2 separate regions of the Homo sapiens genome follow, and region 2 is linked to region 1. A link means that fine-mapping ties the variant in region 1 to the expression of a gene that starts in the linked region. Tissue or cell type: tibial nerve. Region 1 holds a variant in brackets; the other region holds the start of a gene. All regions are shown on one strand. Distances are from middle to middle.

Region 1 (8,000 bases):
CTGGAAACAACTAAATGTTAAACAGTATGGGGGGGTGGGTTAAGTACTTTGAGTGGATTATGGTGCAGCCGTTAAAATAATTATGATGGGCTGGGCACAGCGGCTCATGCCTGTAATCCCAGCACTTTGGGAGGCCAAGGCGGGTGCATCACCTGAGGTCAGGAGTTGGAGACCAGCCTAGCCAACTTGGTGAAACCCCATCACTACAAAAATACAAAAATTATCTGGGTGTGGTGGTGCGCACCTGTAATCCTAGCTGCCCGGGAGGCTGAGGCAGGCAAATGGCCTCAACCTGGGAGGCAGAGGTTGCAGTGAGCTGAAATCACACCACTGCACTCCAGCCTGGGTGACAGAGTGAGACTGTACCTCAAAAAATAAAATAAATAAATAAATAAATAAATAAATAAATAAATAAATAGACCGGGCGCAGTGGCTCACACCTATAATCTCAGCACCTTGGGATGCCCAGGCAGGTGGATCACCTGAGGTCAGGAGTTTGAGACCAGCCTGGCCAACCATGGCCAACATGGTGAAACCCTGTCTCTACTAAAAATACAAAAATTAGCTGGGCTTAGTGGCAGGCGCCTGTAATCCCAGCTACTTGAGAGGCTGAGGCAGGGAGAATTGCTTGAACCCAGGAGGCGGAGGTTGCAGTTAGCTAAGATCGCACCACTGCACTCCAGCCTGGGCGACACAGCAAGACTGTCTCAAAAAAAAAAAAAGAATAATTGCAATGAATTGAAACTTATCATATGTATTTGAATTTATAAGTTCATACAACTGCAAACAGAAAAATACCCCAAAAGCCACATACCCAATTTGTGGCAGATTAAAGATGGCCACAGGCCAGGGCATAGAACTCTTGGGCACAGTGGCTCATGCCTGTAATCCCAGCACCTTGCGAGGAGTTTGAGACCAGCCTGGGCAGTATACTGAGACCCTGTCTCAAAAAAATTAGCTGGGTGGTGGGGTGCCTGGGTGCAGTGACTCATGCCTGTAATCCCAGCCTTTTGGGAGGTGGAGGCAGACAGATCTCTTGAGCCCAGGAGTTTGACACCAGCCTGTGCAAATGGTGAAACCTCATCTCTACAAACAAATACAAAAATTATCCAGGCATAGTGGTTCGTGCCTGTAGCCCCAGCTACTTGAGAGGCTGAGGTGGGAGGCTTGCTTGAGCCCAGGAGGTCAAGACTACAGTGAGCCTTGATTGTGCTACTGCACTCCAGCCTGGGCAACAGAGTGAGACCTTGTCTCTAAAAGAAAGAAAGAAAGAGAGAAAATAAAGATGGTGGCCAGGCGCGGTGGCTCACGCCTGTAATCCCAGCACTTTGGGAGGCCGAGATGGGCGGATCACAAGGTCAGGAGATCGAGACTATCCAGGCTAACACAGTGAAACCTCATCTCTACTAAAAATACAAAAAAATTATCCGGGCGTGGTGGCGAGTGCCGGTAGTCCCAGCTACTCGGGAGGCTGAGACAGGAGAATGGCGTGAACCCGGGAGGCGGAGATTGCAGTGAGCCGAGGTCACGCCACTACACTCCAGCCTGGGCGACAGAGCAAGACTCCGTCTCAAAAAAAAAAAAAAAAAGAAAAAGAAAATAAAGATGGTTGCGAAGTTCTTGCCACTACTTCACTCTAAAGTTGAGGTCTTTGTCCTTTCCTCGTGAAAGACTCTTTGACCACATTGACCAGTGGAATACAGTAAAAATCATACATGCCTGGGCCCAGGCCAATTCCTCTGTTGGAAACATGTGGGTGCCCTGAGCTGTCCTGTGAGAAGGTGCCATCCTGAAGCCCTCGTGCCACAGCGGCCACAGGTAGGTGTTGTACATGGCAGTGCAGCTGTGCCCACCTTCCAGCCTCCAGCTAGGCCTGCCAAGGTGTTAGACATGAAGAAAGCCTTCTGGGACCCCCAGCTCATCCCATCGGCTGGCTCTACACTTCTGAATGACCTCAGTCAGTGCCACAAGGAGAAGTAGAATTGCTCAGCTGAGCCCTGCCCCAATTCTCAGCCTTCCAAAGTGCTGGATTATAGGCCGGCATGGTGGCTCACGCCTGCAATCCTAGCACTGTGGGAAGCCAAGTCGGGCAGATCACCTGAGGTCAGGAGTTTGAGACCAGCCTGGCCAACGTGGCAAAACCCCGTCTCTACTAAAAATATAACAATTAGCGGTGTGTGGTGGTTCATGTCTGTAATCCCAGCTACTCAGGAGGCTGAGGCAGGAGAATGGCTCGAACCTGCGAGGCAGAGGTTGCAGTGAGCCAAGATCGTGCCACTGCACTCCAGCCTGGGCAACAGAGTAAAACTCTATCTCCAAAAACAAATAAACAAAACAAAACAAAACAAAACAAAAGTGCTGGATTACAGACGTGAGCCACTGCGCCCGGCCAGCTCTTTATTTTGAAAAACTGATAAATAAAGGGAAAGAATCAAGCACTGATTCTGTGTTTTGTGTATGAACTGTTCTTGAGGCACCTAGATTGTTGATGAAGGGAAGCTTGTCCCTATAGAAGTATTCCTGCCGTTGCCAAGCACGGTGGCTCACACCTGTAACTGCAGCACTTTGGGAGGCTGAGGCGGCAGGATCAGTTGAATCCAGGAGTTTGAGACCAGCCTGGGCAACATGGCAAATCCCCATCTCTACAAAAAAAATTATAAAAATTTAGCAGGACACGGTGGCCCCTTCCTGTAGTCCCAGCTACTTGGGAAGCTGAGAGAGGAGGATTGCTTGAGCCTGGGAGGCAGAGGTTGCAGTGCGGCGAGATCAAGTCATGACACCCCGGCCTGGGCAACAGAGCGAGACCCTGTCTCAAAAATAAATACATACATACATACATACATATTGCTTTTTTAGTTCTGATAATTATATAAAATAGGATATCACATAATTAAACATGGAGTCTTGAACCGTTAGAGAATCTTACAGAAATGCTTTGGATGAAATAATATGATGTCTGGGAATTGGTTCAGAACATGCCAGTGCTGAGGGGGGTGGAGGTTCAGACTAAACGAGACTGGCCACGTGCCGTTAACTGGTGAAGTGGGGCAATGGGGGTCCCTTAACGCTTTCTCTCTCCTTCTGAGTGTGATGGAGGTTTTCCATAATAAAAAGTCAAAAAAGATTCCCTTTATTCTAGCCATCCTGGAATCCACAGCAACCCTTCGGGGGCTCCGGGCACCCTCTCTAGGGTGGTGCTGTGGGGTGGGGGTAGGCTGGGGGCACAGGGACCACAGTGCAAGAGGCTGGGGCCACTTGCCATGTTTTGTGACTCTGGCTCTGAGCAGGGGCCAGCCCTTCCTCCGTACCCCTTCCCTGCTTCTCTGGGGGTTGGTGAGGACAGGCGTGTGGCGGGGAGACCGTGGCTTTCTCAGAGGCTCAGAAGGAATCTATTTCTCTTTCAACTCTGTCGTCCCCAACTTGCCCCTTCAGCAGACTCTCCAAGAATATCAAATACTGACTCAGGGCCCTTAAATAACCCCTGTGATTTTGTTTTTAAAGGCTCCTTGACCTTCCTGAATTTCGGTACAGATCCTGTTTAAATGAGTTTCCTGACTTCAGAGTCTGAAAAGGGTATATCTTTTATTTGTTGACAGTGTTATCATTAATCCGTGTTATCACTAATCAATAAACATCTATTGAGTGCCTGCTCCGGGCCAGAGAGGGAAACAGCTCAGAATCAGCACAGCTCCTGGCCCTCACACCACTTGGGTCCCGGCCTGTCCCTGGGCACCCATTCTCTGCTGCTGTGGGCCGGGCAACCCCTGGCTCAGGTGCCAGGGGATGTGGGAGTAGTGGTGAAGGGTGCTGAGGGTTCAGGGTGTTTGCGGGGACGGGAACAAAGGACTTCTGCCACACAGACATCACTGCCAAGTGTCTCTCCTGCTCATCTCTTTCAGGATGAGTGTGCAAACCATCCGAAATGTGTTCAGCGTTGAAGCTGGATATCGGCTCTCAGATGACCAAATAGTCAACCATTTTCCAAACCACTATGAACTGACCCGGAAGGACCTGATGGTGAAGAACATCAAAAGATACAGGAAGGAGCTGGAGAAAGAAGGGAGTCCTCTGGCAGAAAAAGATGAAAATGGAAAATACCTCTATCTGGGTTTGTGCGTCTTCCACCGGCTCATGTTTTCAGTAAACAGCTGAATTTTTTCTTTGGGGCGCGAGGCGCTGAGGTGGTGACTGTTGGCTTTGATGCGTGAGCATGTCCATGCGAGTTGTGGTGGCACCTGTTTCATTTCAGGTGTCTCCAGAATGAGGGAGAAGGAGGGGCCTGAGTGTGGCATCCTAGTTTCTGTGAGTGCCTTGGGAATTGCCTGGCATGGCGTTTTTTTTTTTTTTTTTTTGAGACAGAATCTCACTCTGTCATCCAGGCTGGAGTGTAGTGGCGCGATCTCAGCTCACTGCAACCTCCGCCTCCTGAGTTCAAGCAATTCTCCTGCCTCAGCCTCCCAAGTAGCTGGGACTACTGGTGCCCTCTACCATGCCCGACTAATTTTTTTTTTTTTTTTTTTTTTGTATTTTTAGTAGAGATGGGATTTCACCATATTGGCCAGGCTGGTCTCGAACTCCTGACCTTGTGATCCACCCGCTTCTGCCTCCCAAAGTGCTGGGATTATAGACGTGAGCCACCACACCCAGCCAGCATGG[A/G]CTTTGTGTAAGCCAGAGGATGCCCTCAGCGCTCAGCCTGGGGAAATACTTCTTGAGCCACAGGCTGCCACGAGGGCTCATGACTGTGTCTGGCTATACCCAGGGAAGACAGTGTGTCCCTGTCCAAGTCCGGGATAAAAGCTGGACTGAATAGTTTCAGATTTCTTCACAAACCTGGGTAGAATTCTCTATCTGATCTCCCTGGGCCTCAGTTTCCTCGTCTGCTAAATGGGAATTATTACAGGGTTTACAGTAGCTCCCAGGTGGCCGTGGGGATTGAAAAATACAGGTTTGTAAGGTGCTTAGGTAGGCTCTATAAATGTAACTTGTGAGTGTTGCCCAGGGATTGTGCAGCAGAGGCCCTTGTTCTGTTAGCTGCTGGGTTGCGGTGGGGGACACTCAGCCCACAGGCCCTGGAAAGGCAAGGGCAAGATCTTTCTGTTCATGGCCACTGTTGGGCTGGCTGCTTACCAGTGCTGGGTGTCTTTGCCTTGCAGACTTTGTTCCAGTCACCTATATGCTGCCCGCTGACTACAACCTGTTTGTAGAGGAGTTCCGGAAGAGCCCGTCCAGCACCTGGATCATGAAGCCTTGTGGCAAGGCCCAGGGAAAGGGCATCTTCCTTATCAACAAGCTCTCACAGATCAAAAAGTGGTCCCGGGACAGCAAGACATCTTCGTAAGTGTGGGCAGCCACCCACTTTGTGTGCCAGGTCCCAGTTCACCGTTTTATGCTGTTCGCAGTCTTTGTGGGTTTTTGTTTGGTTTTTTTTTGACAGAGTCTCACTCTGTCGCCCAGGCAGGATTACAGTGGCACAATCTCAGCTCACTGCAACCTCCGCCTTCTGGGTTCAAGCGATTCTCCTGCTTCAGCCTCCCGAGTAGTTGGGATTACAGGCATGCGTCACCACGCCCAGCTAATTTTTGTATTTTTTTAATAGAGTTTTTTTTTTTTAAATAGAGATGGGGTTTTGCGGCTGGGCATGGTGGCTCATGCCTGTAATCTCAGCCCTTTGGGAGGCCGAGGTGGGTGGATCATGAGGTCAGGAGATCAAGACCAGCCTGGCCAAGATGGCGAAACTCCATCTCTACTAAAAATACAAAAAAAAAAAAAAAAATTAGCCAGGTGAGGTGGCAGGTGCCTGTAATCCCATCTACTCAGGAGGCTGAGGCAGGAGAATCGCTTGAACCCAGAAGGCAGAGGTTGCAGTGAGCTGAGATCGCGCCATGCACTCCAGCCTGGGTGACAGAGTGAGATTCTGTCTAAAAAAAAGAAAGAGAGAGAGGTGGGGTTTTGCCCTGTTAGCCAGGCTGGTCTCAAACTCCTGACCTCAGGGTGATCCACCCACCTCGGCCTCCCAAAGTGCTGGGATTACAGGCGTGATTCACTGTTCCTGGCCTGTTCTGTGGTCTTTGGCCATGAGCCACACAGCCCATGCTTGCTTTTACAGGCGTGCGTCATCTGTCACGTGGCGTCACGGTGGGGTTCTGTGGTTGTCTTCGTGTGATTAGTCCCAGACTCTGCCCAAGGCAGGCCATGAAGAAGGGTGTAGGTCATGGGCCAGGGCCTGCAGCCACTTTTTGATTACAGGCTGGTGTGAGAACCGCTCAGTCGTGGTGGTTCTGAGGCAGCGAGGCACCTGCCAAAGTCCTGGGACTCGTGGCCCTAGGGTCCTGGGTTTGAAGCCCAGTCTCACACGAAGTGGCTGAGCGTATTTTGTTCTTCAGACTCTCCATGTCTTACATTCTCCATCTGAGTAAACCGGGGACACCAGCAGCACCACTGCCATGGGGTTGTGATGGGGATGGAACGAGTTAACACATGTGAAATATGAAGCATCTGGGAGGAGCCGGGCACAGCCGATGGGCACAGCCGAGCAAGTGGTGGGGCAGTGGCCTCGTGGCAAGCCCAGGGGCCTGGGTCTGCTGGCTTCTCTGTCTTTGTTTTTTCTCAGCTGCTCAGAAGTGCCCGGGGCCCACCGGGGCAAAGCTTCTGTCTGATCCTTTTCCAGTGGGGAGATGACTCACTTGTCAGGAGTTCCCAGGGTGACAGGAGACACCTTCTCATTTTATAGCATGTTTACTTTTTTTTTTTTCTTTTGAGATGGAGTCTCACTCTGTTGCCCAGGCTGGAGTACAGTGGTACAATCTCAGCTCACTGCAACCTCACGCCTCCCAGGTTCAAGCGATCTGCCTACCTCAGCCTCCCAAGTAGCTGGGATCACAGGCACCCACCATGCCTGGCTAATTTTTTTATTTTTAGTAGAGATGGGGTTTTACCATGTTGGCCAGGCTGGTCTCTAACTCTTGACCTCAAGTGATCCACCCACCTTGGCCTCCCAAAGTGCTAGTATTACAGGGGGTGAGCCACTGTGTGTGGCCTAAAAAAAAATTTTTTTTTTTTTAAGACGGGATCATGGCTCACTGCAACCTCAACCTCCTAGGCCCAAGCGATCCTCCCACCTCAGCCTCCTGAGTAGCTGAGACTATAGGTACACACGACCACACCTGGCTAATTTTTCTTTTTTGTAGAGGCAGGGTTTCATCATGTTGCCCAGGTTGATCTCAAATTCCCGGGCTCAAGTGATCTGCCTGCCTCAGCCTCCCAAAGTGCTGGGACTACAGGTGTCAGCCACCATGCCCGGCCATGCTTAAATCTAATTACACTTTGCTAGCCCCCAGATGGCCAGGCCCGAGGAGCATTTCCCTGAGTGGACTCCTGGGGACTGTCCTGCAGCTGCTTGCACTGTCCCCTGGGGCAGGGGGTGTGTCCTCCATGGATACACCCCACCCCCATTTCCTTCCTGATGACCCAGCCCCTCACAGTGAGAGGCCGGGAGCGTGTTGCCAGCTGACGAGATGCACCTTTGGTCTTTACCATCCATTTTTTTTCTAGTAGCTTGATTTTTTTTTTAATTTTTTTTTTTTTTGAGACAGTGTCTCGCTCTGTCTCCCAGGCTGGACTGCAGTGGTGCGATCTCAGCTCACTGCAACCTCCACGTCCCAGGTTCAAGCGATTCTCCTGCCTCAGCCTCCTGAGTAGCTGGGACTACAGGCACCCGCCACCACACCTGGCTAATTTTTGTATTTTTAGTAGAGACAGGGTTTCACCATGTTGGTTAGGCTGGTCTTGAACTCCTGACCTCGTGATCCTCCTGCCTCGGCTTCCCAAAGTGCTGGGATTACAGGCCTCCAGTAGCTTGATTTTTTTAGAGCAGTTTTAGGTTTACTGCACAATTGAAGAAGATACAGAGATTTTTTTTTTCCTATACCCCTTCCCCACACATGCACGGCCTCCCCCCTTATCAGCATCCCCTACCAGAATTGTTAAAGTTAGCAAACTGA
Region 2 (8,103 bases), 940 kb after region 1:
AGGACGACCCAGACACGGGAAAAGTCACCAATGGGACCAGCCCGATGCTGCAATTGCTAGACAAAGACGTTCAGTCAGCTCATTTAAATATGTTCAAAGACCTAAAACATGCTGCATCTGAGGCTGCACCGGCTGGAACCTGCTGATCTCGGAAGCTAAGCATGGTCAGGCCTGGCTAGTACTTCAAAGGGAGAAACCACGTGTAGGCCTGGTGCAGTGGCTCACACCTATAATCCTAGCACTCTGGGAAGCTGAGGCCCGTGGATTGCTTGAGCCCAGGAGTTTGAGAGCAGCTTGGGAAATGTGGTGAGACCCCCATCTCTACAAAAAAATTTAAAAAATTAGCTGGCTGCCTATGGTCCCAGCCTCTCAGGATGCTGAGGTAGGAGGATCACTTCAGCCCAGGAAGTTGAGGCTGCAGTGAGCCATGACTGCATCACTGCACTCCAGCTTGGGCGACAGAGAGACCCTCTCCCAAGAAAAAGAAAAGAACCATGTCAAAAGAACTAACGAAAGTGTGGGAACAATGTCTCACCAATTAGAGAATATCAATAATGGGATGAACCTTATAAAAAGGGGCTGGGCATGGTGGCTCATGCCTATAATCCCAGCACTTTGGGAGGCTGAGGCGGGCATATCATGAGGTCAAGAGATTGAGACCAGCCTGGCCAACATGGTGAAACCCCGTCTCTACTTAAAATACAAAAATTAGCCGGGCGTGGTGGCACGTGCCTGTAATCCCAGCTACTCGGGAGGCTGAGGCAGGAGAATCGCTTGAACCCGAGAGGCAGAGATTGCAGTGAGCCGAGATTGCACCACTGCACTACAGCCTGGGTGACAGAGCGATACTCCAAAAAACAAAACAAAACAAAAAACAAAAAAAAAGTTTAAAAAGGAACCAAATAAAAATTCTGGAGTTGTAGGGTAAAATAAATGAAAATTCATCCCAGGGGCCCAAGAGCAGATTGGAACAATTGGAAGAAAGAGCCTGTGACTATGGAGAGAGGCCACCTGAGGTAGTACCCTCTGAGGAACAGGAACAAGCATGAAGAGCAATGCACAGAGATCCAGAGACCTGGAGACGCCGTCAAGCTTTCCGACATACACGCAATGGGAGTCCCAGGAAAGAAGACAGGGAGAAAGGAGTAAAGGAATAGTTGAAGAATTAATGGCTGAAAAACCTCCCAAATCTGATGAAAAATATTAATCTGTACATCCAAAAAGCTCATCAAACTCCAAGTAGGGTAAACTCAAAGAGATCTTCAGCCATACGCATCATCATAATCACTGTCAAAAGACAGATTTTTCTTTTTTTAGAATTTTAAATGTACCTTTTAATTTGCTCCTGGGGCAAAGAGCCAGGACTGGTACTAGAGCAGTGTCTGGGATGAGAAGAATTTAATAAAATGGGATTAGGTCCAATGGTTGGGTTAGGGGAGGCAACCTGCTCGGGAGGATCAGCCTCAACCTATCCATGCAGCAGGGCCTCCACCTGTCCCTCTCCGTAGTCCCACACCTGGAACCCAGAGCCATCTGCCTCTTCCCAGATCATGGCCGACAGCACTCCACCAGACTGCGGCTGGAGCAGGCACAGGATTCACTTATTGAGGGCTGTGGCCTGGCACAGATCATAGCCTATACCCAGGGACAGTTGTGTCACTTCTGCCACCACCACATCCGCCTTCTGCAGCCACATCAAGTACCACTCATGGATGAGCCCGTCACCCCCAGCGGACTTATCAACCCCGCGTCCAGCTCCACAGCCGCCACGTGCTCGGTGAGCACTGGCTCCAAGCATGGCAGCTGCCATACAATCCACCTGTAGAGGGCCCGGTCCTCCTGTCCTCAGTGGATGATCCCGTAGAAGTCCAGAGCTCGGCAGCTGCCCTCCCACAAAAGACAGGATTTTGAAAGCAGCAAGAGAGAAGAGACGTATCAGGTAGTCACAGTGGCTCAGGCCTGTAATCCCAGCACTTTGGGAGGCCCAGGTGGGAGGATCGCTTCACCCCAGGAATTCAAGACCAGCCTGGACAACTTGGAAGAACCCGGTCTCTACAAAAAATACAAAATTAGCTGGGATTGGGTGCGGTGGCTCATGCCTATAATCCCAGCACTTTGGGAGCCTGAGGTGGGTGGATCACCTGAAGTCAGGAGTTCAAGACTAGCCTGGCCAACATGGTGAAACCCTATCTCTACTGAAAATACAAAAAGCTAGACGTGGTGGCACACACCTGTAATCCCAGCTACTTAGGAGGCTGAGGCAGGAGAATTGCTTGAAGCCTAGAGGTGAAGGTTGTAGTGAGCCGAGATTGCATCATTGCACAATGGAGGGGAGCCACCAGCCTGGGCAACAAGAGGAAATCTCCGTCTCCAAAAAAAAAAAAAAAAAAAAAAGAATTAGGCTGGGTGGTGCCTGTAGTCCCAGCTACTTGGGAGGCAGGGGGTCCACTTGATGTCGAGACTGCAGTGAGCCATGATCCTGCCACTGCACTCCGGCCTGGGCAACAGAGTGAGACCCTGTCTAAAGAAAAAAAAAATAAAGCAACATATCCTGAACAAAGGATCCTCCATAACGTTCCCACCAGATTTCTAATCAGAAACATGGAGGCCAGAAAGCAGTGGAGGAGGACGACCCTCAGGCAGCCCGGGAGGATGTTGTCACAGGCTGGGGCAAGGGCCTTCCGGCTACCAACTGGGAGCTCTGGGAACAGCCCTGTTGCAAACAAGAAGCCATAGCCCGGCCAGAGCCCAGGAATGTGGGCTGGGCTGGGAGCAGCCTCTGGACAGGAGTGGTCCCATCCAGGAAACCTCCGGCATGGCTGGGAAGTGGGGTACTTGGTGCCGGGTCTGTATGTGTGTGTGACTGGTGTGTGTGAGAGAGAATGTGTGCCCTAAGTGTCAGTGTGAGTCTGTGTATGTGTGAATATTGTCTTTGTGTGGGTGATTTTCTGCGTGTGTAATCGTGTCCCTGCAAGTGTGAACAAGTGGACAAGTGTCTGGGAGTGGACAAGAGATCTGTGCACCATCAGGTGTGTGCATAGCGTCTGTGCATGTCAAGAGTGCAAGGTGAAGTGAAGGGACCAGGCCCATGATGCCACTCATCATCAGGAGCTCTAAGGCCCCAGGTAAGTGCCAGTGACAGATAAGGGTGCTGAAGGTCACTCTGGAGTGGGCAGGTGGGGGTAGGGAAAGGGCAAGGCCATGTTCTGGAGGAGGGGTTGTGACTACATTAGGGTGTATGAGCCTAGCTGGGAGGTGGATGGCCGGGTCCACTGAAACCCTGGTTATCCCAGAAGGCTTTGCAGGCTTCAGGAGCTTGGAGTGGGGAGAGGGGGTGACTTCTCCGACCAGGCCCCTCCACCGGCCTACCCTGGGTAAGGGCCTGGAGCAGGAAGCAGGGGCAAGAACCTCTGGAGCAGCCCATACCCGCCCTGGCCTGACTCTGCCACTGGCAGCACAGTCAACACAGCAGGTTCACTCACAGCAGAGGGCAAAGGCCATCATCAGCTCCCTTTATAAGGGAAGGGTCACGCGCTCGGTGTGCTGAGAGTGTCCTGCCTGGTCCTCTGTGCCTGGTGGGGTGGGGGTGCCAGGTGTGTCCAGAGGAGCCCATTTGGTAGTGAGGCAGGTATGGGGCTAGAAGCACTGGTGCCCCTGGCCGTGATAGTGGCCATCTTCCTGCTCCTGGTGGACCTGATGCACCGGCGCCAACGCTGGGCTGCACGCTACCCACCAGGCCCCCTGCCACTGCCCGGGCTGGGCAACCTGCTGCATGTGGACTTCCAGAACACACCATACTGCTTCGACCAGGTGAGGGAGGAGGTCCTGGAGGGCGGCAGAGGTGCTGAGGCTCCCCTACCAGAAGCAAACATGGATGGTGGGTGAAACCACAGGCTGGACCAGAAGCCAGGCTGAGAAGGGGAAGCAGGTTTGGGGGACGTCCTGGAGAAGGGCATTTATACATGGCATGAAGGACTGGATTTTCCAAAGGCCAAGGAAGAGTAGGGCAAGGGCCTGGAGGTGGAGCTGGACTTGGCAGTGGGCATGCAAGCCCATTGGGCAACATATGTTATGGAGTACAAAGTCCCTTCTGCTGACACCAGAAGGAAAGGCCTTGGGAATGGAAGATGAGTTAGTCCTGAGTGCCGTTTAAATCACGAAATCGAGGATGAAGGGGGTGCAGTGACCCGGTTCAAACCTTTTGCACTGTGGGTCCTCGGGCCTCACTGCTCACCGGCATGGACCATCATCTGGGAATGGGATGCTAACTGGGGCCTCTCGGCAATTTTGGTGACTCTTGCAAGGTCATACCTGGGTGACGCATCCAAACTGAGTTCCTCCATCACAGAAGGTGTGACCCCCACCCCCGCCCCACGATCAGGAGGCTGGGTCTCCTCCTTCCACCTGCTCACTCCTGGTAGCCCCGGGGGTCGTCCAAGGTTCAAATAGGACTAGGACCTGTAGTCTGGGGTGATCCTGGCTTGACAAGAGGCCCTGACCCTCCCTCTGCAGTTGCGGCGCCGCTTCGGGGACGTGTTCAGCCTGCAGCTGGCCTGGACGCCGGTGGTCGTGCTCAATGGGCTGGCGGCCGTGCGCGAGGCGCTGGTGACCCACGGCGAGGACACCGCCGACCGCCCGCCTGTGCCCATCACCCAGATCCTGGGTTTCGGGCCGCGTTCCCAAGGCAAGCAGCGGTGGGGACAGAGACAGATTTCCGTGGGACCCGGGTGGGTGATGACCGTAGTCCGAGCTGGGCAGAGAGGGCGCGGGGTCGTGGACATGAAACAGGCCAGCGAGTGGGGACAGCGGGCCAAGAAACCACCTGCACTAGGGAGGTGTGAGCATGGGGACGAGGGCGGGGCTTGTGACGAGTGGGCGGGGCCACTGCCGAGACCTGGCAGGAGCCCAATGGGTGAGGCTGGCGCATTTCCCAGCTGGAATCCGGTGTCGAAGTGGGGGGCGGGGACCGCACCTGTGCTGTAAGCTCAGTGTGGGTGGCGCGGGGCCCGCGGGGTCTTCCCTGAGTGCAAAGGCGGTCAGGGTGGGCAGAGACGAGGTGGGGCAAAGCCCTGCCCCAGCCAAGGGAGCAAGGTGGATGCACAAAGAGTGGGCCCTGTGACCAGCTGGACAGAGCCAGGGACTGCGGGAGACCAGGGGGAGCATAGGGTTGGAGTGGGTGGTGGATGGTGGGGCTAATGCCTTCATGGCCACGCGCACGTGCCCGTCCCACCCCCAGGGGTGTTCCTGGCGCGCTATGGGCCCGCGTGGCGCGAGCAGAGGCGCTTCTCCGTGTCCACCTTGCGCAACTTGGGCCTGGGCAAGAAGTCGCTGGAGCAGTGGGTGACCGAGGAGGCCGCCTGCCTTTGTGCCGCCTTCGCCAACCACTCCGGTGGGTGATGGGCAGAAGGGCACAAAGCGGGAACTGGGAAGGCGGGGGACGGGGAAGGCGACCCCTTACCCGCATCTCCCACCCCCAGGACGCCCCTTTCGCCCCAACGGTCTCTTGGACAAAGCCGTGAGCAACGTGATCGCCTCCCTCACCTGCGGGCGCCGCTTCGAGTACGACGACCCTCGCTTCCTCAGGCTGCTGGACCTAGCTCAGGAGGGACTGAAGGAGGAGTCGGGCTTTCTGCGCGAGGTGCGGAGCGAGAGACCGAGGAGTCTCTGCAGGGCGAGCTCCCGAGAGGTGCCGGGGCTGGACTGGGGCCTCGGAAGAGCAGGATTTGCATAGATGGGTTTGGGAAAGGACATTCCAGGAGACCCCACTGTAAGAAGGGCCTGGAGGAGGAGGGGACATCTCAGACATGGTCGTGGGAGAGGTGTGCCCGGGTCAGGGGGCACCAGGAGAGGCCAAGGACTCTGTACCTCCTATCCACGTCAGAGATTTCGATTTTAGGTTTCTCCTCTGGGCAAGGAGAGAGGGTGGAGGCTGGCACTTGGGGAGGGACTTGGTGAGGTCAGTGGTAAGGACAGGCAGGCCCTGGGTCTACCTGGAGATGGCTGGGGCCTGAGACTTGTCCAGGTGAACGCAGAGCACAGGAGGGATTGAGACCCCGTTCTGTCTGGTGTAGGTGCTGAATGCTGTCCCCGTCCTCCTGCATATCCCAGCGCTGGCTGGCAAGGTCCTACGCTTCCAAAAGGCTTTCCTGACCCAGCTGGATGAGCTGCTAACTGAGCACAGGATGACCTGGGACCCAGCCCAGCCCCCCCGAGACCTGACTGAGGCCTTCCTGGCAGAGATGGAGAAGGTGAGAGTGGCTGCCACGGTGGGGGGCAAGGGTGGTGGGTTGAGCGTCCCAGGAGGAATGAGGGGAGGCTGGGCAAAAGGTTGGACCAGTGCATCACCCGGCGAGCCGCATCTGGGCTGACAGGTGCAGAATTGGAGGTCATTTGGGGGCTACCCCGTTCTGTCCCGAGTATGCTCTCGGCCCTGCTCAGGCCAAGGGGAACCCTGAGAGCAGCTTCAATGATGAGAACCTGCGCATAGTGGTGGCTGACCTGTTCTCTGCCGGGATGGTGACCACCTCGACCACGCTGGCCTGGGGCCTCCTGCTCATGATCCTACATCCGGATGTGCAGCGTGAGCCCATCTGGGAAACAGTGCAGGGGCCGAGGGAGGAAGGGTACAGGCGGGGGCCCATGAACTTTGCTGGGACACCCGGGGCTCCAAGCACAGGCTTGACCAGGATCCTGTAAGCCTGACCTCCTCCAACATAGGAGGCAAGAAGGAGTGTCAGGGCCGGACCCCCTGGGTGCTGACCCATTGTGGGGACGCATGTCTGTCCAGGCCGTGTCCAACAGGAGATCGACGACGTGATAGGGCAGGTGCGGCGACCAGAGATGGGTGACCAGGCTCACATGCCCTACACCACTGCCGTGATTCATGAGGTGCAGCGCTTTGGGGACATCGTCCCCCTGGGTGTGACCCATATGACATCCCGTGACATCGAAGTACAGGGCTTCCGCATCCCTAAGGTAGGCCTGGCGCCCTCCTCACCCCAGCTCAGCACCAGCACCTGGTGATAGCCCCAGCATGGCTACTGCCAGGTGGGCCCACTCTAGGAACCCTGGCCACCTAGTCCTCAATGCCACCACACTGACTGTCCCCACTTGGGTGGGGGGTCCAGAGTATAGGCAGGGCTGGCCTGTCCATCCAGAGCCCCCGTCTAGTGGGGAGACAAACCAGGACCTGCCAGAATGTTGGAGGACCCAACGCCTGCAGGGAGAGGGGGCAGTGTGGGTGCCTCTGAGAGGTGTGACTGCGCCCTGCTGTGGGGTCGGAGAGGGTACTGTGGAGCTTCTCGGGCGCAGGACTAGTTGACAGAGTCCAGCTGTGTGCCAGGCAGTGTGTGTCCCCCGTGTGTTTGGTGGCAGGGGTCCCAGCATCCTAGAGTCCAGTCCCCACTCTCACCCTGCATCTCCTGCCCAGGGAACGACACTCATCACCAACCTGTCATCGGTGCTGAAGGATGAGGCCGTCTGGGAGAAGCCCTTCCGCTTCCACCCCGAACACTTCCTGGATGCCCAGGGCCACTTTGTGAAGCCGGAGGCCTTCCTGCCTTTCTCAGCAGGTGCCTGTGGGGAGCCCGGCTCCCTGTCCCCTTCCGTGGAGTCTTGCAGGGGTATCACCCAGGAGCCAGGCTCACTGACGCCCCTCCCCTCCCCACAGGCCGCCGTGCATGCCTCGGGGAGCCCCTGGCCCGCATGGAGCTCTTCCTCTTCTTCACCTCCCTGCTGCAGCACTTCAGCTTCTCGGTGCCCACTGGACAGCCCCGGCCCAGCCACCATGGTGTCTTTGCTTTCCTGGTGAGCCCATCCCCCTATGAGCTTTGTGCTGTGCCCCGCTAGAATGGGGTACCTAGTCCCCAGCCTGCTCCCTAGCCAGAGGCTCTAATGTACAATAAAGCAATGTGGTAGTTCCAACTCGGGTCCCCTGCTCACGCCCTCGTTGGGATCATCCTCCTCAGGGCAACCCCACCCCTGCCTCATTCCTGCTTACCCCACCGCCTGGCCGCATTTGAGACAGGGGTACGTTGAGGCTGAGCAGATGTCAGTTACCCTTGCCCATAATCCCATGTCCCCCACTGACCCAACTCTGACTGC

The links. PIP is the estimated chance that this variant, and not a neighbour inherited with it, causes the effect.
Region 2: CYP2D6 starts here. The variant in region 1 is fine-mapped to the expression of CYP2D6 in tibial nerve (GTEx, PIP above 0.99).

Annotation. Positions count from the first base shown.
Region 1 is chr22:43,065,744-43,073,743 of GRCh38, reverse strand. It overlaps TTLL1 (TTL family tubulin polyglutamylase complex subunit L1), which reads left to right. Exons shown (of 11, transcript NM_012263.5): 4 at 3,900-4,108; 5 at 5,154-5,334. Among named protein-coding and RNA genes, the nearest start is that of TTLL1, 20 kb to the left of the region's middle. The variant A/G (reference allele first, on the strand shown) is at 4,657.
Region 2 is chr22:42,126,319-42,134,421 of GRCh38, reverse strand. CYP2D6 (cytochrome P450 family 2 subfamily D member 6 (gene/pseudogene)) reads left to right here and starts at 3,612. Exons shown (of 9, transcript NM_000106.6): 1 at 3,612-3,810; 2 at 4,513-4,684; 3 at 5,237-5,389; 4 at 5,478-5,638; 5 at 6,072-6,248; 6 at 6,439-6,580; 7 at 6,788-6,975; 8 at 7,430-7,571; 9 at 7,670-7,923. The coding sequence starts at 3,631. The coding sequence ends at 7,848. RefSeq lists a cis regulatory region at 2,316-2,327 and promoters at 2,021-3,553, 3,140-3,606.